Homo sapiens: one gene and its partners. The protein of the gene in region 2 interacts with the protein of the main gene of each other region in a biochemical or structural test. Each region holds a gene or a part of one and is shown on either strand. Other genes may lie near its edges. The genes, in order: NUP153, MAPK1, PTPN5, TNKS2, ITGB6, SOX10 and RXRA.

What was found.
Region 1: the proteins of MAPK1 (region 2) and NUP153 form a complex in vitro, tested with the Homo sapiens proteins (one study listed by BioGRID).
Region 3: the proteins of MAPK1 (region 2) and PTPN5 form a complex in vitro, tested with the Homo sapiens proteins (one study listed by BioGRID).
Region 4: of the proteins of MAPK1 (region 2) and TNKS2, one has a biochemical effect on the other in vitro, tested with the Homo sapiens proteins (one study listed by BioGRID).
Region 5: the proteins of MAPK1 (region 2) and ITGB6 interact in a test that uses a peptide from one of them, tested with the Homo sapiens proteins (one study listed by BioGRID).
Region 6: of the proteins of MAPK1 (region 2) and SOX10, one has a biochemical effect on the other in vitro, tested with the Homo sapiens proteins (one study listed by BioGRID).
Region 7: of the proteins of MAPK1 (region 2) and RXRA, one has a biochemical effect on the other in vitro, tested with the Homo sapiens proteins (one study listed by BioGRID).

What each region holds. Positions count from the first base shown.
Region 1 is NC_000006.12:17,626,651-17,631,045, forward strand, and holds part of NUP153 (nuclear pore complex protein Nup153), read right to left. Parts: intron 2,890-4,395; coding exon 2,005-2,889; intron 1-2,004. UniProt on the Homo sapiens protein: Component of the nuclear pore complex (NPC), a complex required for the trafficking across the nuclear envelope. Functions as a scaffolding element in the nuclear phase of the NPC essential for normal nucleocytoplasmic transport of proteins and mRNAs.
Region 2 is NC_000022.11:21,857,082-21,861,476, forward strand, and holds part of MAPK1 (mitogen-activated protein kinase 1), read right to left. Parts: intron 1-4,395. UniProt on the Homo sapiens protein: Serine/threonine kinase which acts as an essential component of the MAP kinase signal transduction pathway. MAPK1/ERK2 and MAPK3/ERK1 are the 2 MAPKs which play an important role in the MAPK/ERK cascade.
Region 3 is NC_000011.10:18,739,319-18,743,713, forward strand, and holds part of PTPN5 (tyrosine-protein phosphatase non-receptor type 5), read right to left. Parts: intron 4,112-4,395; coding exon 4,004-4,111; intron 3,758-4,003; coding exon 3,674-3,757; intron 3,186-3,673; coding exon 2,944-3,185; intron 2,570-2,943; exon of another isoform or gene 1,475-2,569; coding exon 1,285-1,474; exon of another isoform or gene 1,106-1,284; intron 1-1,105. UniProt on the Homo sapiens protein: May regulate the activity of several effector molecules involved in synaptic plasticity and neuronal cell survival, including MAPKs, Src family kinases and NMDA receptors.
Region 4 is NC_000010.11:91,843,109-91,847,503, reverse strand, and holds part of TNKS2 (poly [ADP-ribose] polymerase tankyrase-2), read right to left. Parts: intron 2,586-4,395; coding exon 2,476-2,585; intron 1,753-2,475; coding exon 1,564-1,752; intron 1-1,563. UniProt on the Homo sapiens protein: Poly-ADP-ribosyltransferase involved in various processes such as Wnt signaling pathway, telomere length and vesicle trafficking.
Region 5 is NC_000002.12:160,102,390-160,106,784, forward strand, and holds part of ITGB6 (integrin beta-6 isoform a precursor), read right to left. Parts: intron 1-4,395. UniProt on the Homo sapiens protein: Integrin alpha-V:beta-6 (ITGAV:ITGB6) is a receptor for fibronectin and cytotactin. It recognizes the sequence R-G-D in its ligands. Internalization of integrin alpha-V/beta-6 via clathrin-mediated endocytosis promotes carcinoma cell invasion.
Region 6 is NC_000022.11:37,974,435-37,978,055, forward strand, and holds part of SOX10 (transcription factor SOX-10), read right to left. Parts: coding exon 3,433-3,621; intron 1-3,432. UniProt on the Homo sapiens protein: Transcription factor that plays a central role in developing and mature glia.
Region 7 is NC_000009.12:134,409,322-134,413,716, reverse strand, and holds part of RXRA (retinoic acid receptor RXR-alpha), read right to left. Parts: intron 1-4,395. UniProt on the Homo sapiens protein: Receptor for retinoic acid that acts as a transcription factor.

The DNA of each region.
Region 1 (4,395 bases), on a different chromosome or scaffold from region 2:
ATGCATATACTTGTTTCCTCTACTGTTATCACTAGACTGTTTTAATTATTATAACTTTATACCATGGACTGATATTAGTAGGACAAAGCTGCCTGTGTGCCTGCCCTTCTTCCCAAAATTTCTTGTGTGGTTTCCTTTCCATGTGAATTTTAGAATAAGTTTAGCTTGTCAAGCTCTACAAAAATTCCCCTAAGAACTAAAATTATGGGAGGAGGAAGGGAATACCTTCACCCAGCAACAAGTATGCCTTTTGTGTTCTTTTAGTTATTTGGCATGTTACAAGTTCTGCTGCTTTTATAAAATACAAGTTAGAAATGTTAGGAAAAACAAATGAGACATGCTGATTTGAAGAAAAACTTTTGATTTTTATATGGTGATTCTGAATCCAGCCACCTTATTGAAGATTTTTTTCTAAACTATTCCAATAATCTCTCAGTTCCAATACCGCACACTATCCAGGGCTGGTCACAGTACACTATGGGCATTAGTATGACTTACAGAAAATGGAACATGTTGGCTTACTTTCAACCTGGCTAATGGAAGAATGGTTAAGAGTGTCTACCATAGCCTGGTGTTTTCATCATCAAATCTGATTAGACCCTATCATGTTTTTGTTGCTTTCCAAATAATATGTAATTTTAGTTTTGATTTTGTCTTTATATTTCTAAGTAAATATATAACAGACAAAAAACTGCTCATAGCTATTTGTTGAATTCCATACTTTTTAAAGGTTAATTTTGAGTGTTTCCAATTTATTATTCAAAAGTATTCATGGATATTCAACTTTTGCATTTTTTGCACATCTAAAAACATCTGTATTTTGCCTTTGTGTTGGTGTTTTTTTGTTGTTGTTGGGTTTTCTTGAGACAGAGCCTTGTTCTGTTGCCCAAGCTGGAGTGCACTGGGCCAATCTCTGCTCACTGCCACCTCCGCCTCCCAGGTTCAAGAGATTCTTGTGCTTCAGCCTCCCGACTAGTTGGGATTATAGGTGTGAGCTACGGCACCCGGATTGTCTTTATATTTAAACACATTTGGCTAGTAACAGAATTCTAGGTTCAAGAACATTTTCACTTTAAGGGCACTGTTGTTTTTAGCATGTGATGTTACAAATTAGAAGATGATGCTAATCTGATACCTGCCTATTTGTGGCAAATAGCTTTTCTCTCTGAAAGCATTTGGGGTTTTAGCTTTGGTGTCCTAAATTTCAGTGATCTTTGCCAATAGGTAATTTCCATTTTTAAGACCAATGTCTTTCTTTAGATCTAGAAAATTTTCTTCTGTCACTTCTTTGATATTTCCCCAAAACTTCTTATCTTCTAGGCCACTCCTATCCCAAAGGAACTTGTGGATCTAACTTGGATCACTCTTTGTACTGGTGCACTAAGTTTGGGGAAATTCTAGTTCACTAATCTGATTATCAGCTATGAAGTTCTTCCTGCTATTCAGCTCACAGAATGACTTTAATAGGATCCACCAACAATCATGCTTTTAACCTTTAAGGTGCTATGTCATTTTTTTCCCCAGGACTTCAGCTTTCAAAATCTCTTGTTTTCTCAGGATTAATTATATTTGTTGTCTATGTTTCTTAATGTTTGATGAGGACTGGTTATCTGTAACTATTTGTAAATAAAGGCCTTCCCATAGATTATGGTAGAAAATACTTCATAAGCTAAGAATCCTTATTTTCCAGGTAGTAGATACCAATTCTGATTATAAAAGCCCAAACAGAAGAGAAAGACACACATAAATATGCACTATATTGAGCTTTGCATTACTGCTGTATTTCTCAAAATTAGATCCACAGATGACTTCACCAGAATCATGAGGGTTTTAAAGAGCAGTTCAAACTGAAAATCCTAGGTTCCTTCCCAAAGAGTTCTGTATTTCTCAACTATGTTCAGTGTAAACCATTAATTGACTTGCTGCATCTGTCAAGGCAACTTGTAAAACGACAACTTGTAAAAAAAAAAATAATAATAATAATAATAAAAAGTTAATACTTACCAGCTGTAGTACTAGTTTGAGCTCCAAAGGCAAAAGTGGCTTTTGCTGGCTGTTCAGATTCCTTCTCAGATGGTTTTGTCATACTAAAACTAAATGTGGACTTTGAAGAATTCTCATCTTTGGTTTGCTCTGAATTCCCAAAGGAAAACACTGGTTGACACTTTGGCTCTTCATTGTCAGCTTTCTTCCCAAAAACTAGGGAAGTAGAAGTGACAGGCTCTTGCTGTTTCTCTTCTGTCCTTCCCAAAACAAACACTGAGGCAGATGGCAGAGAGGCAGGCTCCACGTTGCCAAAAGAGAATCCTCCTTTGGTGGCAGGCATTTCTTCTTTTTTAGCTTCTGATGTCTTACATGTGAAAGGAGCCACTGAAGCACTCTTGGTTTCTATGGTTCCAAGGTTGAAGCTGCTCTTGTTCTCAGAGGTCACTATGGTGTTAGCAGGAGCAGGGGTGGAGTTAATAACACCTGTACCAAAGCTAAAACCTGCAGAGGAAGATTTGGGCAGTTCCTCTTTCTTTTCTTCCTGTCCAAGATTAGATACCCCAAATTGAAATGGAGTTAAAGAAACTGGGTTGCTTAAACCAGAAGAAAGTCCAAACTTAAAATTATCATTCTTACTATCTTTTTTAACTTCTTCGGGCTTAGATTCAGATGAAACTCCAAATTTAAAATCTCCTATTGGTTTAGAAAATTTAAAGCCTTCACTCATGGGGTTTATAGACCCAGAATCGGATGACACACCTATTTTGAATCCTCCCTGATCTCCAAATTTAAAATTTCCAGTGCTTGTTAAAGTCTGAGAAGGCCCAGAAGAGGATGATGAGACACCAAATTTGAAGGATGAGGAGGCTGCTGAGTTCGAAGATGAGGAAGATGTGTCAAAGCCTACAAAAATATAAAAGACACCACATAGACACTCAATGTACTGATCCTCTCAAACAAAATGTAAACACTGTGAAAGCCAAAGAAACATAGGAGTAACTTTGAAAGGGCCTACTTTGAAGAGTATTACCAGCAGCTGTAAACATAATCCAAGGTGACCTATATTTAGTCGGTATGAGAATGATATCTCAATCCTCACAACTATCCTGACAAGCCACTTTTCATTTATCAGACTGGCTGCGATAAAGTTTGATAAAGTTTGTACTAGTGATGAGACTGGAAGTAACAGGCTACACATTGCAGGTGGGTGTATAAATGAACACAAAACTCATAGAGAGCAATCTGTCAATAGTTACCGAAAATTACAAATGCATATACCCTTTGACCTTGCAATTCTATAGCTGGAGTTTGTTTTAAAGATAAACTCATAGACATGCAAAATGCCATATGCAATCCAGGCAGCTATAAACGAAGAAGGAAGAACAAAGATGTGTCCAAGATAATCCCTGATAAAATCAAAGGGGCAGAAAGGGAGTGCGGTATACAGACTTTTCTAACAAGGTAAAAGGAAGTAAGAATATATAGGGGTATGTATGTTTGCCTTGGATGGGCATAAAGAAACTTTGAAAGATTTACAAGAAACTAACCACAGTTACATTTGGAAGTGGGAGGGAAGGTGGAAAAAGAGACAATGGAGAGAAGAGATTGAACCTTGTCACAATTTCTTGATTTTTAAATCTTGTGAATAAATGTGTTATTCACTCAAGCATTTAAAAAAGGAAGGCAACAGAAAAACAGAAGAATTACAGAGTTGAAGCAATGTTTATAAAGTTAAACATCAGACTGGGCGTGGTAGCTCACGCTTGGAATCCCAGCACTTTGGGAGGCCAAGGCGGGCAGATCACCCGAGGTCAGGAGTTCAAGACCAGCCTGGCCAACATGGCGAAACCCCATCTCTACTAAAAATACAAAAAAAATCAGCCAGGCATGGTGGTCTGTGCCTGTAGTCTCAGCTGCTTGAGAGGCTGAGGCAGGAGAATTGCTTGAGCCCGGGAGGTAGAAGTTGCAGTGAGCCAAGATTGCGCCACAGCACTCCAGCCCGGTCAACAGTGAGACTCCACTTCAAAATAAATAAAGAAAAGAAAACAGAGGAGAGCAGAGGAGACGGGAGACGAGAGGGGAGGGGAGACAAGAGGGGAGAGGGGAGGGGAGAAGGGAGGGGAGAGGGGAGAGGGGAGAGGAGAGAAGAGAGAAGACAGGAGAGAAGAGAGAGGAGAGAAGAGAAAAGAGAAGAGAGCAAGCATTATACTGACAAGATCAAAGTCTTGGTTTCATAATGCTTTTCTGCAGCTAAGGAAATCAGAAATGAAGTACTTGACCTACTGGCTCAAAACAAGGATCATTAAGAAGTACTAAGATACTTAAAAGTATGGTGATTACCACACTACAGGTAGAGAACAGTATAAAAAGGGGAGCATGAATTAACAGCTACAGAAAGAGATAAAATGA
Region 2 (4,395 bases):
TGACACGACGACGGCTCACTGTAGCCTTGACCACTCAGGTTCAAGCGATCCTCAGCCCCAGGCTCCCAAGTAGCTGGGACTATAGGCACGTACCACCACACCTGGCTAATTTTTTTTTTTTTTAATTTTTAGTACCTTTAGTACAGAAAAGGCCTCACTATGTTGCCTAGATTGGTCTCAAACTCCTAAGCTCAAGGAATCCTCATGCCTCGGTCTCCCAAAGTCCTGGGATTATAGGCATGAGTCCTGCACCCAGCCTAGCTGAAAATACATTTAATACACCTAACTTACCAAACATCACAGCTTAGCTTAGCCTACCTTAAACATGTTCAGAGCACTTACATTAGCCTACAGTTGGGCAAAATCATCTAACGCAAAGCCCATTTTATAATAAAAGTGTTGAGTAACTCATATGATGTATGAAATACTATACTGAAAATGAAAAACAGAACAGTTGCGTGGGTACTCGGAAGTAAGGTTTCTACTGCATGTGTATCACTTCCATACCATTGTAAAGTCATCTGACCACCAAGCCAAATATTTGTACTTCTGCACATGCTGCTTTACATAGAGACCGAGACAAAGGGGGATTCACATCTTGTCAACCCTGTTTACTTCAAAGGAATAACAGAGCATTAACTAGGTACCAAGTGCTCAGGACTTCAAGTATACTGTTTTATTTAATACTCATGACAATCCTTTGACCCCTTACTTGTGACTGGCAAGTTACCCAACTTTTGTTTCATTTTCCTCATCTGTAAAAACCGGAGAGTGATACACACTCCCTGGAGAATGACAGGGAAAACAGTACCAAGAACTTTAACCTAACAAGTCAGAAATCAATGAGACCCCTTTTGACAATTCCCACCTTGCCCTTTAGACATTCCGAGATATGCAGCTTTATTTAATAAATGACCCCACCTTGGGCCTCAGCTGACTAGACCAGAGGCAGACACTCTCCCAGGCTGGAAAGGCCAGGTGGAGTGAGCTGTTCTGTGCAGAATGATCTCCCTAACAGTGTTTTTACACATTCTGTTCCACTTGGAATTGGATTCAGAGTGTTCTCAGCCTCTGGTCATCAAAAAACCTGAAGACACATACCTTCAGGGAGCTAGGGTCAGCTCTCCTCTGCTGAGTGCATGGGGAAGTGACAAAAGAGAAAAGAGGGGGGAAAATCCAGCTGCTGAGAGATGTAGGGTACAAGAAGCTTTTGTAACTGTAAAGAGGGAGGGAGGTAGCTACGTTGGTCTATTTTCCAGTTCCTGGTTCCAACTATACCTAAAGCTTTAACTGCACTTTCTATCCTTGCAGTAATATGACAAAGGCCCCCAGATCTTAATCATAAACTTTTCATTTTCTATAATGCAGTCTCTACAAAGTAGTGCCTAAAACATTCCAGCACTCTACCCTACCTTTTACCCAGCTAGCTCTAAGTCTTCCTTCAGGTCCCAGCTTAAACACCACTTCCTCCCGGAAACCCTTCATGACTACTCAGAATATCTTATATCATCCAGTGGCACTCCACACCTCACCATACTCAGTAAATGTTATTACTGCCCTGTTGGACTGTAAACACCAAAGAGTAAGAACAACTTTTGTTCACTACTTTGTTCCTACTGCCTAGCACATAATCCGGTACGTGTTTAATAATATTAAATGAATGAAAATCAAGAAACTGGTAGAGGTAACTAGAAGGAATGGGAAGAAATCAATACTGCTTCCTGATAAAAATTAAGTTGCTAGATGACAGATCCTTTGGAGATAAAGAAAAAACAAAAACAAAAAACAAAGTTACTTTAACTCTAATCCTTTCTAGCCTCTTCTTCAGGTCTGTCTGCAATGGCATAATCATTTTATACTTTAGGGCTAATCCATTCAGGAACCCAGGCTGTAGGAAGTACGTTTCTAGGTAACTCGGTATAACAGAGAAAAGCCTATAGTAGTTAAAAGAAAAAAGGTCACAGGATTTGGGGTCTGCATAAATCTCAATTTACATCTCAGTTCTGCAATATACTTACTGGCTGTGAACCCTGAACGAGTTACCTGACACCCAGTTCCCTTATGTGTAAAGTGCAAAATATAATACCTCAAAGACAAGGATGACGGTCAGGCGCGGTGGCTCACACCTGTAATCCCAGCACTCTGGGAGGCTGAGGCGAATGGATCACGAGGTCAGGAGTTCAAGACCAGCCTGGGCAACAGGGTGAAAGCCCATCTCTACTAAAAACTACAAAAAAAAAAAAAAACTTAGCCAGGTACAGTGGCAGGCACCTGTAATCCTAGCTACTCAGGAGGCTGAGACAGGAGAACTGCTTGAACCTGGGGGCAGAGGTTGCAGTGAGCCAAGATCGCGCCACTGCACTCCAGCCTGGGCAACAGAGTGAGACTCTGTCTCAAAAAAAAAAAAAAAAAAAAAGACAAGAATGAGAATGAAGCTTAAACCAGCAAGGCAGGCTTGCAACTAACATTAGTCAGTTGATCATGGCATATTATCCATGCAGACACCTGCTATCCAGCTCCTACTGGCCATAGGTTCAAACCCCAGGGCCTGCCTTGAGTCTGAGAATCTGGGAGGGACCTTGGAGACCATCTATCCTGTGGGTTGCCCAACATCATTTTCAAAGCAATCAAATCCTTTTTCCAAATGGGATCTTGCCCTGCTAACCCTAATAGTTACTACCTATGTGAACTGAAGATGATAATGACTAAAAGGAAATTAAGAAAAAGAAAAAAGACTAAGGGCAGAGGAAGAAGGGAAACGGGAGGGGAAGGAGGTAGATAAGAGAAGAGCAAAGAATAGAAAAAACAGGGATTAGGGGAGAGAATGCTGTATGTGAAGTTTCCCTATTTGGGGTGAGGCCTGAAGCCCCTAAGAGAGGAGGAGATTTGAAAACCACAGACAGAGCCCAGTCCTTTCATGTTATAGCAGGGGAAATAGAAACACATAAATTTTGTTCAGCTGCCTATAGCTTTCTCCTCCTGTGGTTCTGCTCAGTTTCCAGAAAGCCTGGGTAACGTCTGAATCCTCCTGGAATCTCTCTTCTTCCTTCTGGTACGGTGTGGGCCATTTCAAAGCTCAGGCAGGTGGCCTTTCCTAGAGGGAGCAGAGACAGCGCAGCTACTGGATGAGCTCCTAGGCACCTTTCAGTGTGGGAGCCTCAAGAAGTGAAAGAAAAAAAGCAAATCTAAAGGGGAGCAAAATAGCATCTCAGGATTAGGCAAGAGGGTGGGTGGAGTAGGCCGGAGGCAAGGAGCTCTAGATGTTTGTTGGGGAATGAGGTGTTTTTCAATTAATAGGTATATAAATTGTGAGCAAGGTGAGGAATAAATTACATACAGTTTTGGGGAAAAGTCAACTTGAATTTACACAAATCAGATTATGGGAATGGTGTAATGGTTATAGCTAACTACCAGGAATACATCATTAGGGATGCTATTAATATAAAAATTAATTTTGTTTTGACTTATCCTTTTACTCTAAACTCTGCTCAGAAACACTAGATTCTTCTGTTACTCATGTAAGCTGCTGTCCTTGCATCTTTGAGCTCCAAAAGTGTAGAGGAGACTTCTTGATTAAAAAAGTTAAGTAAACAATGAGCAAGCAAAATTAAGAATCTCAATATCTCTGTCTCCAGGTCTAGAGTTTTTATATATGATATATGTTATTGCTGTTCCTGCCTTTCAAACAGGTGGTACAAACACCCAGCAGAGATCCATGAAGAGAGTGCATTAACAGGAAGCAATAGGGCAAAGTTCATAGAGATGAGCTTTAGAGAAAAGCGGGACTTAAATAGAGCCTGATGTTTCTTGGGGCAGGCTGGGGTGCTGTACTATGGGCATCTTGGCAGGATGATTCTCCAGTGGAGGGAGTGTACCGTGCAATCCAGACCATTTAGCATGTCTGCCCTTGACATGCCTACTGACGGCCAATAACACCCCCTAATCAACGTGACAACACAACAAAAAGCCGCCCCCCTATACATTTCCAAATGCCTCTGTAGCAGGGAGGTAAAATCACCCCCACTGAGTACCACGAGATAAAGTAGGCACAATGCGGCCAGGTGCAATGGCTCACGCCTGTAATCCCAGCACTTTGGGAGGCCGAGGCAGGTGGATCACCTGAGGTCAGGAGTTTGAGACCAGCCTGGACAACATGGCGAAATCCTGTCTCTACTAAAAATACAAAAATTAGCCAGGCATGGTAGCACACACCTGTAATCCCAGCCACTCAGGAGGCTGAGGCAGAATTGCTTGAACCCAGGAGGCAAGGTTGCAGTGAGCCTCCAAGCAAAACTCTGTCTCAAAAAAAAAGTAAGTAAGTAGGCAAAATGGGCAGAAAGCATAAGAGATAAAGTGGGAGTGGAACTGGCAGACAGAAACAGGGCCATCCTTTAA
Region 3 (4,395 bases), on a different chromosome or scaffold from region 2:
TGGCAGTGGGAGCTCAGAGAAGGAGCTGAGGCTGGGGTGGTTAAAGAAGGCTTTCTAGAGGCATCTGGAGTGAGTGATGATGTGAGCAAAGGCACAGGAGGAGAAAGGCACGGACGAGACTGGCCCAGTTTGAAGTGGACAGTCCCTGCAGGGGTGGGGCATGGGGCATAAGGCTGGAAAAGGAGGCTGGGGCCACACGAGGTAAGGGGTGCTGATGGTGTATGCAGGTGGTACCAAGTTCTGGAGAACTTGGAGCAGCAGATCAGATGATGATGGAGGTCTTCTCACAGGGGAGAGCTACCCGGTCCAGACAGGCCCAGGGCGGAGGCCAAAGGAAGGGAGCTATGAGGGAGGAGGCACCTGCTTCTGTACCCCTGTGGCTTCTACCAGGAGGAACTCACCCCAGATACTCTTGGCCTCTTGCCTTTTCCTGCTCACAGAAGTGAGGAGTTACCTGTTTGGTGAATTTGGTTGAGGAATGGAGCTTTGGAGCCTCAGCCCCTTCCTTCCTCCTCCTCTCAGGGCCCTCCTGCCAGGAAAGAATTATAGGGGTGCCCCCATGCGGCAAGGTCCGAGATGTGCCGGCACCCCTGTGGAGGGTGGAAAGTGCATGTAATTCTGGGTCTCAGTATCGGGAGGCTCACTCTTGCTGTACCCTGCTAAGCCACATTTCCAACCTGTATTTTATTGACAACAAAGGTGATATTGTAATCTCCTATGCCTTAGCTCTTAACTGGCTGAGCACTCAGGCAGGTAAACAGGGGTGCCATTTATTGAGCCCCTCAAAGTCCAATAGGAGGCAGCTGGAGGCTGCTGCAGAAGCCAGGGTGGAGGTGATTAGGACCTAAGCTAGGGCCCCAGGGGTGGTAACGAGGGGAGGCCACTAGAGAGATTTCAAAGGCAGAAGAACAATGCTCGGCAGGAGGAAAGTGGGAAAACAGAAGAGTTAGAAGTGAAGGTTCTCTGTGGCTTTCAGAGCACAGCACTGGGCAATAAAGACTTAGCATTGTCACTGTACCTCCATCACCTGGCTGGGTGCTCTGCACATGTTATAAGTCTCTTTAATCTTTGCAACAATTCTATTATTTTCATCCCCATTTTCCAGATGAGGAAACTGAAGCTCAGAGGGAAAGCAGCTTGCCCAAGATGGTGGGAGAGCTGATAATAAAGTGATACTAATCTACTGCAGATGCTGAGTTCCAGGCACCACGCTCCACCACCTGGGCAGGTGGATGATTGACATGGGTCTGCACACAGTGGGGCGACCGGCTCAAGGGAACTCACAAAGAATTCCGCCTGCAGCAGGAAAGGGTCCAGGGCCTTTTCATGAAGCTCTTCTGCTTGGAGGACACGGGAGGCGCTGAGCAGGTACTCGCGGGCGGACTCCTCACGTGGGGACATGAGATAGCCAAAGCCCTCCTCGTTGCAGCCCGGAGTGCACATGTCCAGGGTCAGGGAGACATTGGAACCCCTCCTGGAAGGACCAGGAAAGGGAGTGTGAGCCTCAGGGGCAGAGGGACGGGCATGAGCTGGGGTCTCCAGGGCTGGGAAAATGAGGGAGGGAGAGATCAGCTGGGAACAGGGTGGGGTTGAGGAAGAGGAGTGGGAGTGTGACAAGACCCCCTGACAAAGAAGCGTGAATCTCAGCCCTGAGGCATTGGCCTGACTCCCTATCTCCTGCCTCCTGCAGTGGAGATGTTAACTTAGTGGGGATTTGGGGCTCCAGTTCTAAAAGTTCCATCCAAAGCTACCCCAACATGGCCTTACCCTGGACTCTCCTCCATCACCGTTGGAGGAAGTTCTACCCTGTGGTCCCCAGGAAGCTCAGAGAGGGGACACCTGCCTGAAGCACAGAAGCGGGGCTTGGGCCCGAGAGGATGGCTCCAGACCCTCCCCACTGCAGTCCCGGGCCCAACAGCCCTGGGATGAGGCTGCTGGTGAGTCAAGGACATATTGTCCAGGAGAGGCCAGGACCCCCGCTGTCAGGAAGGAGGGAGTCCCAGGAGCAGCACGGTGGCCGCAAGGATGTCTACAATGGGCAAACTCTACTATACTCAGAGTCTCAGACACAGGACAGGATGGGGCTTCATTACATAGAAAGAGAAACTGAGTCCCCATGAAGGGCCAAGAGTTGTCCAGGCTCTCCCAGTAAGGGGGTGGCAGAGCTGAAATAAAAAGCTAGGTTTCCTGACTCCACACCCAGTGTTCTTTCTGTGACATCACATGGGTAACTCAAATTTGGTGTGATCTGGCTCACCCACCTAGACTCTGAAACGAGGGTGTCTACACTTCTCAAAGTGTGCTCTGTGGAACACTATGAGCTACCCTATAAAAACAGGTTCTAATTGGGTACCCAGGTACATAAAGATGGCAACAATAGAAACTGGGGACTACTAGAGGAGGGAGGGAGAGAGGCGGGCAAGGGATGAAAAACTAACTGCTGGGCACTACGCTCAGTACCTGGGTGATGGGATCATTTGTACCCCAAACCTCGGCATTATGCAATATGCTCAGGTAACAACACTGCACATGCACCCCCTCAATCCAAAATAAAAGTAAAACAAAAAAATAGAGTTCCGTGGTCAAGTGACTTTGGGAAATGCCACATACTGCCCCCTTGCTGATTTACAATGAACATAAGCATGTTAAAGGCCCTGACAAGTCCTGCAGCAAAGAAAACCACCCAAACTTACTTGAGCATGGGAGAGTGTGTGTGAACATGTGTACACCTATGTGTGCGTGTGCAGTAACAGTATTTCTCAGCATTCATCTTGGGGCACTTTGATCTCTATGAATGACCTGGATAGCACATGTCTACACTGGCTAAGCTATAAGGCCAGCTCTGCCCTGGGCACCAGGAGTCAGAGTCAGGCATCCACTCTTCTGATCAGGAGCTAAGAGCTCAAGGGCCCGTGGAGCCCACCCCTCCTCCACCCCTCCCACCTCTCCTGCAGACCCATGGACTTGACGGTGAGTGAGGTGGGGTCAGCCTCAGGCTTGATGTCCATCACACAATCAAACACAGGAGTCTCGGGCACCGGGTCGAGGTCCAGGAAGTCATCCTCGATCTTCTCCTCCATCCACTCTGAGTAGGTGAAGGAGGGCTGGCGGCTCACTGACTGGCGCCTGTCCTCAGGGGGCAGTGGGGTGGGTGGCTCTGGGGGTGTCCTCAGGAGGTGCCACACCTGGTTGGGGTGTACAGCATCACAGATTTCGGACCACGCTGGCTGCCCCCCGTGTTCCTGGAGTGCCCATGGGATTGACGCCCCCCCACTCCCTCAGTGTGTCTAGAGCAGCTCTGCTCTCCTGGGAGTTGTCCACAAGGCACTGCCCCTGGCCTCGATGGGAGGCTCCATGCCCACTCTCCTTCCCTGCCCCTCCCTCTCCCAGCTCTCTGTTTCTTGTGGCTTCAGGCCTTCTCAGTGGGGCTTGGGAGTTCCTACACCAGTCTTCTCCCTGTCTCATCCCCTTTCCTTAGCCCAGATCACTGCAAACCAATTTTCGGAAAGAAGGAGGCTCTTGCCCCAGGCTGGCACACTTGTGCAAAGAGATAGGTATCCCTCCTTGCCCCACCCAGAATGTCCAGCCTATAAGTCAGATGGGAGCTGGTAGAAATCCAGGCCTCAAGGTCAGAGGAGGACAGCCTTGAGGTTGGGGTCAGGAGGCGCCTTACCAGGGTGGTAACGAGGACCAGGCCCACGGACAGAAAGACCAGCAGCAGACTGGGGACTCCCCACGTCCCAGAGTCAAGCCAGGCCTGGGGAACATCAGATAAACAGGTCAGGGTGGTGGTGGGGGCAGAGTTCTCAGCTCTTGCAATGATGACAAAACCAAGATTCTGAAAATCACGTCCCAGGTCTGGGATGGGGAGCAGGCAGAAGAACTTCAGGGGCTTGGAAGTATCTTCTGAACTCAGAGAAGCCCAATCTGGAGGTTGGGGAGGGTGGGACTAGAGGCCCCCAACAGATCCCTGCTACCCTAGGACTCCCCAAAGCTTACTTACCGTGGGTTCCAGCTGTTTCAGGAGCGTCAGCAAAGAGGAGACGAGGTTTGTGGCGTTCTGTGACCAGATGTGGCCATAACCGCTGAACCAGAGCACCCCACAGGCAAGCTGGGGCACAGGGGAGCAGGCTGAGTATGGAGCCGGCCCCCTTCCCCCGTGTTCCCCCAGCAGAGCTCACCTGCAGCCTCAACCTGGCCCTGCATGGAGGCTCCTGAACCTCTAAGGTCCAGACCGGGCAGCTGAGAGCAGGGCCCCGGTGCTGCGTGCCCGGGGAGGCCTCAGGACTCTCCTTGGAGAAAAGCTGACTGAAGGGAACCAAGAGAAAGCCCTTTCCAGAGAGGACCTCACAAATATGTACATCAAAAGAGTAGTCTCCTAGAAAGGCCTCCACA
Region 4 (4,395 bases), on a different chromosome or scaffold from region 2:
AATTCCAGCTACTCGGGAGGCTGAGGCAGCAGAATCATTTGAACCTGGGAGGCGGAGGTTGCAGTGAGCCCAGATTGTGCCACTGCACTACAGTCTGGGTGACAGAGTGAGACTTCCATCTCAAAAAAATAATAATAAATAAAAATTAAAAAAAATCTGCTAGAATGGAAAAAAGTCCTCACATTTATTGGTACATTAATTTGTTTAATTTGTAATATGTACTCTTCTTTCACAACGTTCAACTAATGTTCAGCAAGGAATAAATTAGTACTTGTTTCATAGTCATTTGTTCTGACTATTCCAGTCATCACCTTTCTCTTCCCCCAGTCTATGCATTCCCATTGCACTCACAATTTGTAAATGACATTTGTTTATAATAATAGTACCATTTATTGAGTGCTTTTTATGTACCTGATACCATGCCAAAGACTTTAAGTAAATTACCCCATTTAATTCTCATACTAACCAGATATATTTTACCTCTATCTATAGATGAGGTAACTAAGGTTTAGAGGTTAGGCAGTTCATAAGATTGTACAACTTAAATCGTGCAGCTGGAATTCTAGGCCCAGTCTGTCTGACTCTAAAGCCCCTGTATGTTCTCTACAGCATTTTGCTTCATTGTAACTTAATTGTATCTGGTCAACTAACATATGGGTGGAATGAATTCCAAATGTTCACTTTTAAGGTAACTTGGAACTAGAAAGATATTTCCCTGAAGAGATAATGTTGTAAATATGGCTGGGTTGTTAGCTGACTGAGAAAAACCTACTTAAGCACCAATGCAGCTGAACTACCTCAGTTTCTTATTGTAATGTGGAACAATGTAATCTTTCTCAGTAGAAAGCAGTCTGCAGAAAAGATTCCCCTTCCTTCTCATCTCAAAAAGAATTCCTTCCTCCTTTCTTTCCACTGCTCTAGTCAATGTCCTCAGTGGTAGAGGCAAGAGAGGCATCTGCTTCAGTGCCCAAAGCAGAGGTGGAAGGTTCAGTGGAAGCTCCTACACCTGCTCCATGCTCTGGAGAGAGGGGAAGGAAAACAGGACCTCCACAGGAAAGTGGATAATAGACTTGTTTCATGAACAGTTAAGGTAGGGTGAGCAACAAGAACTCTGGGATGAGGCAGTGTGGGAGGAAAAGGAATCTCTACTGGCAGCAGGGTTTGTGGCTGCACCTTGGGGGGCAATGTTCCCAGTTGGGGCCGTGTGTAAGACCCATGGTCTGTACCATCTGCGCTGTATGCACTATAAGTAACAGCATTTTCTGAGGGCCTGGGTCTGTTTAGTTTCCTAACTAACGTAAGCAGTTATATCATGTACTTCTTTTTCCTATTTCCAAAATACTCAGTATATAATAACTGATTGATAATTCTATTCTACAGAAGGATAATTATATTACTTTATAATTCTATTATATTTTAATACTAAAGAACTCTTACATTAAAATCAGGCTAAAACCCAGATTTTGCCATTCACATTGACTATAAAGACATTTTATAATAACATCAAGTGAATTTTAACAAGTCAGAAAAGCACTGAGATTTTTCAAAAAGCCCATCACTTACTGAAACTAAATCTAAAGGTGTTTGTCCTTCCTGATTTTTAAGAGTCGGGTCAGCTCCATGGGCTAGCAACAAAGCACAAAGCTGTGTTCGTCCCTTTTGGGCTGCTTCGTGCAAAGGTGTGAAAGCCCATTTGTCCGTGGCATTGACACATGCATTATACTTTATTAGTAGAGCTGCTACATCTACATGCTGTAAAAGAAAATACCCGTTACAGTCTGAAATATTATTTTGTCACACTTTACTTTCTTAAAATGAAACTAGTTACGTACCTACTTCCACATTTTCAAACTTATTCTGGAAATGAAAAGAAAAACTCTTTCTCCCCAACATCACAACTTATGAGTAGCTGATTAAAAATTACAGTGGACATTTCAATAACTTGAGAAACTATCTAGAAAAGAGTTAAGAATTCTATTTAGCAGGAAACTAGACTAATATGACTTCAATAATTTCTAATTTATTCAAATGTTATAACTACTAAATGTCAATTTATAAAGCAGCAATCTTCCTCAATTATTCAAACTATACCATTGAAGATGGTCAATTTTGAATGTCACATTGGACTATGATAAGTCAGGAACAATGCATCTGAATCTGTACAGATTCCATCTACCCCGTTGGTGCCCCAGTGGATTTTCTGGGTACCAACAAATAAACACAATCACCAACATCTCACTGAAAATAAGAGACAGGTGTTAAGGCAGATAATAAAACAAACAACAATACACCGCATATCACACAGCAAGCTTAGAACAGATTCAGAACCGAAATTTGGAAGTTATTTAACTTCTTTAGCTCTGCCACTTACTTCTCTGTAAAATGAGAACATCAAACTACATTCCATTTGAGCTGCAATACTGACTTTCACTTTAAAATTCCACAAATTTTTAAAGGTAACACGGAAGAACTTACCCCGTAAGATGCTGCATTATGTAAAGGAATAAGTCCTCCTTTGTCTTGGGCATTCACATCAGCTCCGTGTTGTAACAAATACTCTGCAACTTCTAAATTATTATAACCAGCTAATTTAGAAAAGAAGTAAAATTACTTTACTTGTTTTTTCTTTTTTAGTCCTATGTCATAATACTTCCACTTGTTAACATAAAAAAGTCATTACATGTATACATATATATATGTATTTATAAGGCATAGACATTACTGAAAACATAAAAAAAGAGATTTTGTATAAATCTGAAATAGCTCATTGGACTCTATTAACAATTTACCTTCTGGAAAACATTTCCCCCTTGCCTCAAGTTGGAAGCTTTTTGTGTTATCAATTAGCTTTGTAGATTCCCAAAATTATATTGACTGATTTGCTTGTATCTTTCCTATGAAAACCTTCCTACCAAAGTCTCTGCCTTCATGGGTGTTACATACCACTTCTTGAACTCAGGTACATGGGTCTCAGAGGCTGCAAGTCAAAGGTCTGCAATCACATACAAGTCAAACCAGAGTGGGCCTCAGAGTCCTCTTCCCCAGAAGGCCACAAGAGCATGCTTTTTTGCTAGAGAGAACTCAGAGGTACACATCTCTGCAAGTCTAGTAGAGGAACTTAGGTGCTGTTAAAGCCATGAAATAAAACTTATTTCTATTATAGTTTTTATCCTTTTGCTAAAGGATTTAAAGCAAAAGAATTTAAAAAGATCAAGTAAAGAAGAATACAATTATAAAACTACCATAAAATATTACATTAATCTAAAAGTCTTTCTAGGTCTCAAGGTATGGTATTTAACGCTGCAGAAGTGGACAGAAATATTTTATGCATACAAATTATTTGTGACTTACAAAGACAACTTGGACACAGTAATGTTAAGTGTTCTAGATAGGCTACAAGAAAGATATAAAAGCTAACATAAATATGCACAGCACAACTTCCAATCAAAGGTCAAGTCATATTTTGTCTTGCATGGACTAGAAACTCCTGATAGCCAGTGGAAGTAAAGCTTTTTCTCACCATGTTAGCATTTGTGGCTTATCACTTCCAAAATACTTGAAAGACACATAGAGTAATTGGTTTCTTTGGACAGTGAGGTCTCAACTTACATGGAGTGAGAATTTAAAGGTAAAAATCATGTATAACACCAAGTTATAATACAAGACTGAAATGAACATCATACATTTCCATCTCCCACATTACACGAAATGGCAGAAATTTTGCATTATTTTTTCTTGCTTTTTATACCATGTTTAAATCATGTATATTTAGACAAACTTGTATGAGTCCGCTGTGTCTATGATGGAACTCCACTGAGGTATTAGCTATAGCTCAGTGATTTTAATGATTTCCTAACATCTGTAATGCAGCTGAAAAAGCTGTACTGAAACCACAATATATTGTATATTTGCACTGAAAACAAAGGTACACTGTGCCAGTTTTATGAGTGAAACCTTAAAACAAATGTCACGAAATGAATTGTACCCTGCAAAATTCTTATGTTGAAGCCCTAACCCCAGTACCTTAGAATATGACTCTATTTGGAGACAGAGCCTTTAAAGAGCTAAAAAAGTTAAAATGAGCCCATTAGGGTGGGCTCTAATCTAATTTGACTGGTTTCCTTAAAAGTAGAGACTAGGACATATAGAAAGAGACACCATGTTCCAATGGAGGACACACTGAGAAGGTAGACAGCTGCAAGCCAAGAGGGGGTTTCAGAAGAAACCAACTCTGCCAACACCTTGAACTTGGACTCCTAGCCTCCAGAACTGTGAGAAAACAAATTTCTGTTGTTTAAGCCACCTGGTCTTTGGTATTTTGTTATGAGAACTCTCACAAACCAAAACAACAGATAACTTTGGTGAGAGGCTTATGTAACTTCTGAGAGTTTTGAG
Region 5 (4,395 bases), on a different chromosome or scaffold from region 2:
GAGGAGTGAGGAACCATCCTCTGGACAGCTAACACTTGCCCTGGGTAGCCAAAGAACCAGCTGTCTTTTGCTTACTATGTACAACACTGTGTAAGACAACCACAAGAGACTGGTATGGAGGACCCTGGGGTCATGAAAGAGTTGCAGTCCAAAGGCAGGCCAGGAAAAATGGCTTTGCCTTGGGGGCAGTGGGAAGGTTGGGTGTGGGACTCTTGGGTAGCTCAGCTGTGCTGTTTGGGTTATAGATGTGCCTCCAGGTGCCAATAGCAGTGGTGCTGTAGCCAAAAGGACCAGAAGGTCCAGAAGGATCAAGCCTCTCTAGTTGTTCCAGGCCGGAGGAAGGTGTCTGGGTAAGGTACAGTTTCTTCTCTCCCACTTTCCAAGGCTGATCACACAGGCTATGGCAACAGTCTGGGTCCAAACCCAGCTCCACCACATGACCGTACTGAAGACACTCTGAGCCTTGGTGTCCCTATCTGTTCCTACCTCGTCCAGGTAAAGTATTTTAGCACTGTGTGTAGCACATAGCAAATGCTCCATAAATGCTGCCTCTTCTCATTAGTTCCTATTTATAGCTTTTCTTCACATTTGGAATTTCCTTTTCTTTTAGGTTTTAGAGAGGATTATTAAGATATTTTCCCCCAGGGCTTTGGTACACTTAACATTTCTAAGCCCATTACTGAGTATGTATGGAATCCAGGTACCGCCTCTGACCTTCTAAGTTAAAATCTTATACTTTGATCACCTCATTCCATGAATTATAGCTATGGTAGAAATTTCTAGGGGTGGATTTGAAAAAAAACCTTAATTGTCTTTGCTTGCTCAGTATATTTCTTTCAGCTCTTAAAAGAATTGAATAAAATCGGAAACACTCCCCGGTCTTTCCCACTCACTGGCCTCAGTGCCCTCATTGTGAGTGGGAATCACACCTGCACCCATTTCTATGTTGTCCAGAGCCAGTGGCCTGACCTCTGACTAAGTGACATGCTACTTTTGTTATGTGCCTTTAAAGAGATATGCTATTTCTATAATAAAGCCAAACAGAAAAATGTTCCTTGGCTGGTGGTGGATGATGGGTGAAAGCTAAGTTGGTATATTGCTTCTATTCCTGAGAGCAGCCTGGTTAATTCTGAGGGACCTCCAGATCTTATCTAGTCTTGCTGCTCTAAGAATTTGAGATTTTGAAGGCAAAGGGCAGACTGATGTGAATTTAGATGTAGATGGAGTCTCATTTGCAAACAAAAATCATGCATGGAATTCTATTAAATTTGAGACTAGAATCTAGTTGGTTACAGGAGAATGAGAGACTCCATTGAAGAAACAAGATGGAAAAAAGTAAGAGGTTCAGGCCAGCAATGACAGGGTAAGCCTGTCCTGGAGGAATTTCCCACTTCCTCCAGGAAGCTCCCACCTTTGTGAACAGAAAAGACACTTGGAAAGAGGACACAGGCTGTGAGCAGGGCCAGCTTAGAGCTCCGTAGGACCAGATACTTGTTTGTAGGTGCACCCTATATCATGTCAAACATACTACAATACACCCATATCCCACACTTAATATAACTGATATGCATTATAGAGGAGGTGACTTGAATTGCAGTTGACAAGATAACACAATGTTATTTAGTAGATATTTAGTTGAATGTTTAATTTTGATGGCAGAGTTTTCATTCCGTATTTTAAAGCAACTTCATTCATTCAGGTTTGCAATATTTTGGGAGTCCCTTGCAATACTGGTTTAGGGCCAAGACATTGCTTATAGGGAGTGATGGGTAAAGCAGACTTCACTAGAGTAAGAGGGTAAGGTGGAAGTGTAAAAGTGGACGAAGAGCAAGTACATATTGCTGTTGTGTGTAATAGGGTATTTCCTGGCCTCAGCTGAAGATCAGAGGTCAGGATAATGCACTCACATTGGGTTTTGTTCCAGGAGGAGGTGTGGAAATGTCCACACTGCCTCCTCTAGTGCTCTGCTGATTGTAACCTCTCTACACAGACTTTCCAGCTGAAATGCAGGCTTGAGTCCTACTCTATTTCGGGTGAGTGTGCAATCCACTGCTCAGAAAAGGTCAGTTTTCCCCTAACCATTTGGGGTTACCAGGCTGATTCCCCCAGGTGTCTGGGAGTGCTAATTTAGGCTGTGGATTCTGCAAATGCAATGACACATTTTTCAAGATTGAAAAAGTGGTAATAGGAAAACTCTGTCATGACCCACAGCTTCCTTAATGATCGCCCAACTGCCAAACACAGACCTGATTTGCTTAGCACAGTACAAAATCAATTCATGACTGCAAGAAATGTCAGGCTGAACATTTTTTTGCCTCAAGTTAATGACTTGTCATCCTAGAAAAAAAATTCTAATCAAAGATGAATTTAAATATGTTTCATTTGTGTTTTCATAAAGAATATGTGGGGGTGGGCATTATTTTTTAAAGCATAATAAAAAAGATAACCTTTCTTTACAGCTGCTCTGAAATGTTTTAGGAGGTAGGAGTGAAGACCTTTCTGTCTTAAGCCCTGTCACTTTATGAGTCCAGTGCAGTCCTATGGCCAGGAGGCCTGACTGTCCCTATTGTCTCTGGAGGGCACTGGGTTTCAAAGACCAGTCAAATTCACTTCTTCAAGAAGAAATAGGTTTTAGGGAAAAAACTCAGTTAAATTGAAGACCCCTAAATGTGTGCAGTGAGCGACATTTTTTTCCAGTAGGATGTTAGTGAAATTTAAACTGAATTATTTGAGTTAAACCTTTTTTGCATCCAAGTGAATAATTACTACCCAGTCATTATCTAGTCAGGAACATCAAACATTTGTTATTCAAAGAAACTCAATTTAATAAGGGAATAATATTTTCCATTTATGCTTTTTTTTCTGTTTAATGCATGTTCGGGTCGCATGTTAGATGAAGAAACAGCAAAAATTCAGCATTTGAATTTCAGTCATGTTCTACATCCTGAGGGAGAACAATTCATGTTTTTGGGGAAATTAACTGTTAATTAAAATGTTATTTTAAAGATATTAATCACTTGTCAGTATTTATGCCTCTGTATGAGAACATTGAAATGTGCTGGTTAGTAGATACACATCACATAATTGCCCAAGTGCGTGTTTGTGGAACACCTGCTTATTATTTCCAGGAGGGTCAACCAAAGGCTGTGCTTAGAAGAACAATGAACAATTAGGCTTCAGCTTAACCATGCACCAAAAGTTAGGGAAGTCCCTTAACTTCTCTGAGCCTTAGTTTAGCTCTTCAAAATGGAAATACCAGGATTATATCATGGGGCTTGCTGCTATTGTCCTTTGTGGCAACTTAACCATATTCTTTTACCTGGTTGCCCTTCTAACCATGGCAAGGCATTTGTTGGAGAGTTGATGAAAGTCAAAAATAACATCTGTGGCCAGGGGTCAGGTGAAGTGAACTGTCCTACAACTTTGGGCTCATTAGTACTGTGTTCTAAGTCACCAAGCTAACCTGTTTACCTTTTACATTGTTAGGGATGAGTAAATTATATCTTCTCCTGAGGAATTTTGCTTAATTATGGAAAATACACACATTCGCAAAAAGAGGAAAGCTATATAACCAACCTCCAAAGACCCATCGCTCAGATTCCACAGTTATCACAGTTCTGCCACACCTGCTTCAACTATCCCTCCATCCCACTCTCTTGGCTGAATTATTTCAAAGTGAACCCCAGCTTTCATTTCCTTTCACTCCTTCAGTATGCATCTCTAAAAAATATGGATATTTTCTAGCAATGTCACCATGCCATTATCATACCTAATCAAATTAACCATACTTATTTGCTATCATTCTAATACCCAGCATGTATTAATCTTTTTTCAGTCTTTTTATGTATTTATTTATTATTTATTTTGGAGACTGGGGCTCACTCTGTCACCTAGGCTGGAATGCAATGGCATGATCATGGCTCACTGCAGCCTTGACCTCCTGGCTCAAGTGATCCTCCTGCCTTAGCCTCCCAAGTAGCTGGGACTACAGGTGTGAACCACCATGCCTGGCTAATTTTTGTATTTCTTTTTGTAGGGATGGGTTTTGCCATGTTGCCCAACTCGAACTCCTGAGCTCAAGTGATCCAATCCTCCTGTCTTGGCCTCCCAAAGTTCTAAGATTACGGTGTGAGCCACCATGCCCAGCCTTTTTCCAGTTGTTTTAAAAATGTATTTTTACAGGTGGACTGTTCAAATCACGATCCAAACAAAATCCATACATTGCATTTGGCTGTTGTATCTAAATGCATTTTTAATGGGAAGATAAAGTAGATAAAAATTTTCAGTGTTCATTGTCCTGTACCATGTATTATCATTAATTTAGAATAACCGCATACAACAGAAACATCCCTTATCAAGATAAATTTATCAAAAATGGAAAATTCCATTTGCTTT
Region 6 (3,621 bases), about 16 Mb from region 2:
CTCTGCCTCCTGGGTTCAAATGATTCTCCTGCCTCAGCCTCCTGAGTAGCTGGAATTACAAGCGCCCACCACAATGCCCAGCTAATTTGTGTATTTTTAGTAGAGACGGGGTTTCACCATGTTGGCCAGGGTTGTCTTGAACTCCTGACCTCAGGTGATCCACCTGCCTCGGCCTCCCAAAGTGCTGGGATTACCATCATGAGCCACTGCGCCCCACAGCATTTGTTTAAATACTGGTGTCTTAGATTGATCTCTAGTTGTTTATGAAATTCTCAAATCTTAGGGATGGGTCCTGGGGAGGCCTGCCTCATTCTGAAAAAACCTTTCCTGTGGAAAGTTCTTCCTCTCATCAGCTTCTCTGCTGTCCAGGTGGTCTGGCCCAGCCTTTGCGCTCTGCCAGCCCCGCTTCCACACCCATGCCTACTGTCTTCCTTGCTGAGCCTCGCTCGCCCAGGCTCCTGAGTGCTCTGTTTCACCTTTGCTGGTTGCCTGGGCCTGCTCCCTGTCCTGGCCTCATGTTGTGTCCTTTCCAACCCTTCCCTCCTCCTGAGCCCACCCTGCTTCCCAGCCCACTGGCAAGCCCTTAGCCCCGTCATACGCTGGCCTGTGTTGCCCTGTTGTTCTTTGAGCTGCCTTCCTCCATGGGAGGGCACTTAGAAAACTGGTCCTTGTTCCTTTGTCTGTTCACTTTCCTATTCACATATTAATTTAGCAAACTCTTAGGGAGCATTACAAAATGCCAGGTACTGTGCCAGGTGCTGGGGATACTAATGTAAATAAAATGGATCCCTGTTCCCAAAAGCTCATAGTCTAGTCATAGATCCATAGATCCACATGCACCCAGAGTTGGAAGTGCTGTGGTGACAATATGCAAGGACTTGGGAGACCAGAGGAGGAGTCCACCCGCTGCCTCAGGGATTTGGGGAAGGTTTGATCAGGGAAGGATGTCTGAGTGGGGTGGGGCCTTGAAGGGTGAGAAAAAGTCTGTGTCCAGTTTCATTCTGAGGTGGTTGCTCTGTATGTGGTCCAGGGTCTCCTGATGTGTGTGTGTGTGTCCCTGAATCTTTGAAGGTGAAGAGTATGTACACGTGTGTGGGAGGGATGACTGCCTGGCATCCCAATGGAGACAGAACATGTCCATGGTCTTAAGAGACTAGGAGCTCCCCAAGGACAGGCCTGTGCCTCCTTCATCAGACCAGAGGCAGCGCCAAGTCCTGCATTGGCCAAGGGCTCTGTACTTCAAGAGACCTGCCTAGGCTTTTGAATCCTGGTTCTGTGTCTGGACAAATCCCCAGTCTTCTCTTAACTAGTTTCCTTATCAGTAAAATAGAGATTGTACCAAGCAGCCCAGGCATTGCCTCTTTCTGGAAGCCTTCCTTGACAAGAGTCTGGTGGGCAGTGGGGTGTTCTTGGAGACCTGACTGGATGGGATAGACGGCCATGCCACCTCTGGATCTCACACAGACTTCTTGTGCACTTGTTTCTCTCTCTATATATATACTATATATATAGTAAGAGATAGGAGGCTGGGCGTGCTGGGTCATGCCTGTAATCCCAGCACTTTGGGAGGCTGAGGTCAGGAATTCGAGACCAGCCTGGCCAACACGGTGAAAAACCATCTCTACTAAAAATACAATAATTAGCTGGGTGTGGTGGCGTGCATCTGTAATCCCAGCTACTTAGGAGGCTGAGGCACAAGAATCGCTTAAACCCAGGAGGCAGACGTTGCAGTGAACCAAGATGGCACCGCTGCACTGCAGCCTGGGCAACAGAGCAAGACTCCATCTCAAACAAAAACAAAAACAAAAAAAAGACAGAGTCTTACTACATTGCCCATGCTGGTCTCAAACTCATGGGCTCAGGTGATCCTCCCACCTCAGCCTCCTGTGTAGCTGGGACTGCGGGCGCATTCCACCATGCCTAGCTTTGTTTCTTCCTGTACTTAATTCACTCGTTTTCATCCCTGCTCCTCTCTCTAGACTATGGGCCCCTGAGGCCAGGGACTGTAGGCTTCTCTGGTTAGTACCCCTGGTGTCCACTCCAGTGTTTGACACAAAGTAGGACTCAGAGCGTGTCCTCTGAAGGCAGAGCTCTGCTCACTGAGCACTTCCCATGTGGCAGACCTGTGTGTGTCACTTTCTGTACATTAGGAACACAGGCAAGGCAGCTGTGGTGCCAAGCAGATGCCCGGGAGCCAAACTGGGGAAGTTCCTGTTTGTTTCTCATCAGTAAAATGAGAGTAACTTGCCACAGCTGAGATCTGAGCCCAGGCAGTTTGGGTACCTCATCACATTGTTTGCAAGGATTGAGTTAGTATACATAAGGCAACTAGCACCTAGCACAGTGCCTGGAACAGAGTAGCTGCTCAATTAAGGTTAGCTGTTATTATCATTAATGAAAATTAAACAAGATAGCTTATGTCTGGCCCATCCATGGCCAGACACGGTATCACATGCCATGTCTCCTCTGTCAGAATGGCTGGTGGGATTTGGGAGGCCGAGGCGGGCAGATTGCCTGAGCTCAGGAGTTTGAGACTGGGCCTGGGCAATATAGTGAAACCCTGTCTCTGCTAAAATACACAAAATGAGCCAGACGTGGCGGTGTGCACCTGTAGTCCCAGCTACTTGGGAGGCTGAGACAGGAGAATTGCTTGAACCCGGGAGGAAAAGGTTGCAGTGCACCGAGATCATGCCACTGCAGTCTAGCCTGGGCGACAGAGTGAGACTCTGTCTCCAGAAAAAAAAAAAAAAGAATGGCTGGTGGGAAAGAGGCAGTGATTTCCTCTCCTCCATTTGCTCTTCCATTTCTCAAAACCATCCTGTCTTCTCCCCCTTTACTTGTAACTGCCCCAGCCACCTCTCACTCCATGACCTCCACAGAGTCTTTTTTTTTTTCTTTCTCTTTGAGACAGAGTCTCGCTCTGTCGCCCAGGCTGGAGTGCAGTGGCGCGATCCCGGCTCACTGCAAGCTCCGCCTCCTGGGTTCACGCCATCCTCCTGCCTCAGCCTCCTGAGTAGCTGGGACTACAGGTGCTCGCCACCACGCCCAGCTAATTTTTTTTATTTTTAGTAGAGATGGGATTTCACCATGTTAGCCAGGATGGTCTCGATCTCCTGACCTCGTGATCTGCCCTCCTCGGCCTCCCAAAGTGCTGGGATTACAGGTGTGAGCCACCACACCCGGCGGCCTCCACAGTCTTTAACTGGCCCTCTTTGCCCAGTAGGATCAGCCCTGGCCAGAGCCATCTCACCCAGCCACTTCCCCTGGCACCGGAACCCCCATGGAGCTCCCTCTGGGCCCCTGCAGCTCTGCTGGGGCAACTGCACAGCCTGGCACGCTCTCCCTAGAGTCCAGGGTCTCATTGCCATCCAGCCATCTCCTGTCTCCACTGACTGGCCTTGCCCCACCCTCAGCTCTGTCATCAGCACTCACCTGAGGGGTGCTCGGGGTTCCCATCTGACATGGGGGAGCCCTCTCCTGGGTGCCGGTGGTCCAAGTGGGCGCTCTTGTAGTGGGCCTGGATGGCGGCGGTCCCACCTTGCTCGGCCTCCCCACCGGGGCACTCCGCCTCGCCCTGGGCGGCCTTCCCGTTCTTCCGCCGCCTGGGCTGGTACTTGTAGT
Region 7 (4,395 bases), on a different chromosome or scaffold from region 2:
GGTCTGGGGAAGGGCAGACAGCTCCGAGGCAGGCATGTCGGAGCCGAGGGGCATCCCCAGGCCCACTGGCTCCTCTGGCTTGGGTAGTGGCAATGGCTGAGTCCTTCCTCCGTCCCTTGTGCAGCCCAGGGCTGGGCCCAAGACAGGCAGGACCGAACTCCACCAAACCATTCTGGCCTCCTCTTAAGGGTGGGGAGACAGAGACCCAGAGAGCAGCGCCAGAGGCCACACAGCAAGCTAGAGTCTCTAAAGGGAGTGACTTACCTTCCCTCCAGGGCTTCAACCTAGAGCAAGGCATCAGAACACGAGAACCATGCACACACACGTGCACACAAACCATGCAGACATACACACACAGACACACAGAGACATACCACACCACACATACCACACCACAGACATATCACACACACACCACACGCACACCCATACACCACACAGACATACCACACCCACACCCACACGTGACCACTGCTCTCCAACCCCACCACCAGCCACGCACAGCACTCTCATCCACCCCCAAGCTCGCAGGGGTCTTCCTGATGCCCCCAGCCCATCACAGATGAGGAACCTGAGGACTGGGCGAGGCAAGGTCACTTGCCCAGTTCACAGGCCAGAAGGCAAGAGGGCCACACTCGAGCCCAGCCGGGGCTCCCTTCCCACAGCAGAGACCTGTGGGTCAGCCACATCCCTGCAGTGCACGCACATGCACACACGTGCACACATAGGTGCACACACGCCAGACCCTGCTGTTTCCACACCCAGTCCTTCAGAGCTGGAGGGTGGGCACAGGAAGCAAAGGCAGGCAGGAAGGAAATGGGAAGCAGCCTTCCTGAGGGAGGAGGAGGAAGCAGAATGGGGGACAGCCACTGCCCCCTCTAGACCAATGTCTCCCCCGACGACCCTGGGTGGAAGCTAGGTCTTTTCCATCGGACTGGGAACCCCCAAGGGTGAGGCCTGTCTTCCCCATCAGAGCACGTGTCCCTGCGGGACCCCCAACCCCTGCCCCCTCCCCGGCTTCAGCAAACAGGCCCAGGCTCAGCTTGGCAGAGGGCCAACACCCACCACTGCACGTCCCCCCACCTCTGCCCACCCCTGGTCCCGGGAATGCTGCGGAACGAGTCCCTCCTGGTGGCTGCCTGCGCGTGCAGGCCCCATTGCCCAACCTGAGATGCTATCAGCCTGTGGTATCCTACCGCATAGGGGTGGGAACCCATCTGCCCCAGAGCCAGAGTGGGCCTTTGCCGGGGGCAGAGTCACCGCATGGGGGCACCTGGGCCATCCTGCCTTCAGCCAGCCCTGGGACCAACCCCAGGCGACTCCCTCGCAGCACTGCACTGGGATGCGACGCCTCAGCTCCAGCCTGTTTCTAGGGGTCTGATCACAAACCGGGCCGAGGGACCACTTGACACCAAGGCCAGTGGGCGGAGCTGCCCACCAGGGGGCCTGACACTTAGGAGGGCTCAGTCCCCAGAGCCGACAGCTCCCATCCTGCATGCTCTGGGCCACAGGCACCTAGTGTTGGCCAACTTGGCCCCATAGCTTTCTCCAGGGCTGCTGCAATGCCTCACCCATGCAGCCAACAGCCCTGCCCTCCGCTGTCGGGGAGCCTGCCTTGCAGTGGTTTGCCCAAGAGGAGAGAGGGGAGTGCTCTGCACTTCAGGACCCATCTGGAGCCAAGGGGTCTTGCCCAGCACCCAGACGCAGGCCGGGGAGGAGGGTGCCTGCCAAGCCCTCCCAGCCACCGTTTCCACGTGGGGTCCCTGCAGGGCGAGTGCCTGGGCTGCACCAGGGGCCCCGTTACTGCCCAAGAGTAAGGAGCTCCACAGGCCTGGCTGTGCAGCCCACACAGCCAGGCTGGGGGAGGCAAGAGACTCCCCCTGTGCACAAGGAGAGGCACTGGCAGCAGGGCACGTTTGGCACGGGGGCCTCACTGCCTCCTCACCGCCCACGCAGAGGTGCCCTCCACACCGAGGCTGAGTTCTGCAGCTGTGTTTGGGGCGAGAGCGCTCGGCAGCATTCTGACTGCAAGTTCACGCCTCAGAATCCTGCTGGAGGCAAAGGGGAGGAGGTCCCTTGACAGCAGCAGCAGTTTCTCTCACGGCCCTAAGTCTGGTCTCCAGGGCTTATGCGCTGCCAAGAGGAAGGACTGGAAGCAGGAAGGACCGGCAAGAAATGGGGGCCACGCCTGGTGCTGGCCCTTAGACCTCCCCACGGCTCACCTCTCTATACCCCATTTCTCTGTCTCACAGGTATGGGGCGAGTGAGACCATGTGTGGGGATCAGGAAGGGGGTGTCCAGGGTGGTCCCCCACATGAGCTGCTCCTAACAGGACCCAGTCACCGATGGGCACCAGGGGAGCGGTCTGACCAGGTGATTCCAGGTCCCCCCAGCCCCAACACTGCACGGTTCCACTGGGATGGGATGGGGTGTCGTCCCCAGGCTTTGGGGGGCCCAGGCAGCTGGAGTCTGATGATCCCAGGCACATGGATGACTGGGCTGCAGGGCCTTAGGAAGGAGTCAGTGCAGCCTGGAGGGTCCGGGACGGGGCTCAGAAAGGCCATCACCGACTTCCGAGGGCCAGGTGTGATGACAGCCTCAGACTTCACGGACACTGCTCCCTGCAGCCAGGCCTGTGGTGCCGACACCTTTTCATTCCTCAGGCGTCAACAGCCCTCCTGCCTGCCTGCGTCTCACCGGGTGCCCGAGGCAGGGTCAGGTGCCTCCTCTGGGCTCCCACAGTGCCTGAGCTTCCCCTAAGCCTGCACTGGCTGCCCCCTGGGCCCCCCCTGGTTATCTGATGATCACTTTCAAAGGACAGCGAGCTTACTGCTGCAGGCCCAGGCCAGGCATCAGCCATGCACAGCGCTCTCATCTGCCCCCAAGCTCGCAGGGGTCTCCCTGAAGCCCCCAGGATCTGAGAGTGGTCTCGGCTAAACCAAGCTCTCTGTGCTGTGGCATCCTCACAGAGACTGCCAGGCTAAGGCTGCACACGAGGCCTTCCCCCCCCAGCTCCAGCCACGCCTCGGGCCTCCACCCCAGAACAGGCCAGTCTCCACGCCTGGGCACAGGGGCCCCGGCCACTGCCTACTATGCCTGCCCCTGTCCCAGTTTCCATCTTCCAGGGACAAGGCTGCACCTGCCACCACAGCAAGCCTCCCTGCCCACACCAGGCACCCGGAAGAACCAGACTGGGTCCACACCTCTCCAGGCTGGGTACACACCTCTCCAGGCTGGGCACACACCTCTCCAGGCTGGGCACATGCTCCTCTGCCCTCTGGTGAAAGCAACAAGGTCTGGATGGGGGCCAGGGCCCAGCATGTGACCCTGCGCAAGGCTTGAACCGTCTGCCCTCGGTTTCCCAACCTGCACAGCACAGGGTGGGCCTGAGCAAACGTCAGCACTCCATGAAACACGAATCCCCATCAGAAAGGCCTGACTGGCAGCACTGGGCATGGCCACACCAGCTCTGGAAGGCAGCTCTGCTATGCAGGCACAAGGACCTCACACCAGCCCATACACCACACTCAGCCTCGCAGCCCAAGGAGGACACCCTCCAGGAGCACGGCGCCTGGCAGAGGCTCTGATTTCTCAACAGGACCGTTAAGGCTGAGAAGACATACACAAGAGAGATGATGAAATGAAACTGCAGCACCAAGGTGGCCACTCAGGACATCCCTGACGGTGAGACAGTGGTGTGGGTCCTGTTTGGGGACCCCACCAGGGGCTGGCGGGGAGGAAGTAAGACACACCAGCCACACAGGTGTTGGGCCTCAGGAGCAGCACAGCAGAGGACAGAGGAAGGGTGTCCTGCAGAGCGGGGGGACAGGGACAGACCAACAGATCTTCACCCCAGACAGCACCTCCCACCTCCACAAGGCCCAGGGCACGGGACCCGATGGGAGGAACTGAGGCACACCCCCAAACGTGTGTGCAAACCATGACCCAGGGACCCACTAAGAGGCCAGGAATCGCCAAACCTGAGAGGGAAAGGGGATGTGACAGATGGGGAAACTGAGGACTACAGCCAGCCAGGACTGGGAAGTCACAGTGCCTGTGGGGCCCGGGACTCCGACCCAGGTCTGGCTGGATGACTTGACAATTTTGGTGACATCGGGGGAGGGACTTCCCTGCAAACCGCCCCGACACAGATTTGTTAATAAGACGAGCACAAAAACAAAAGGAAAGGAGGAACTGCTCCAAGAGCCTGGGGGCCATCCGGCGGCCCTGCGGGGTGCCACAGAGTTGGCCTCGGGAGGAAGCTGGCCCGGGACCACCCCTGGCATCCAACAGCTCAGAAGATGCCCCCGCTCCACCTCTCCAACCTAAGCAGTGCCACCTGAGGGTCTCCTTGACCATCCCCTCACCGGACAGCCAACGCCAGCCAGAACATGC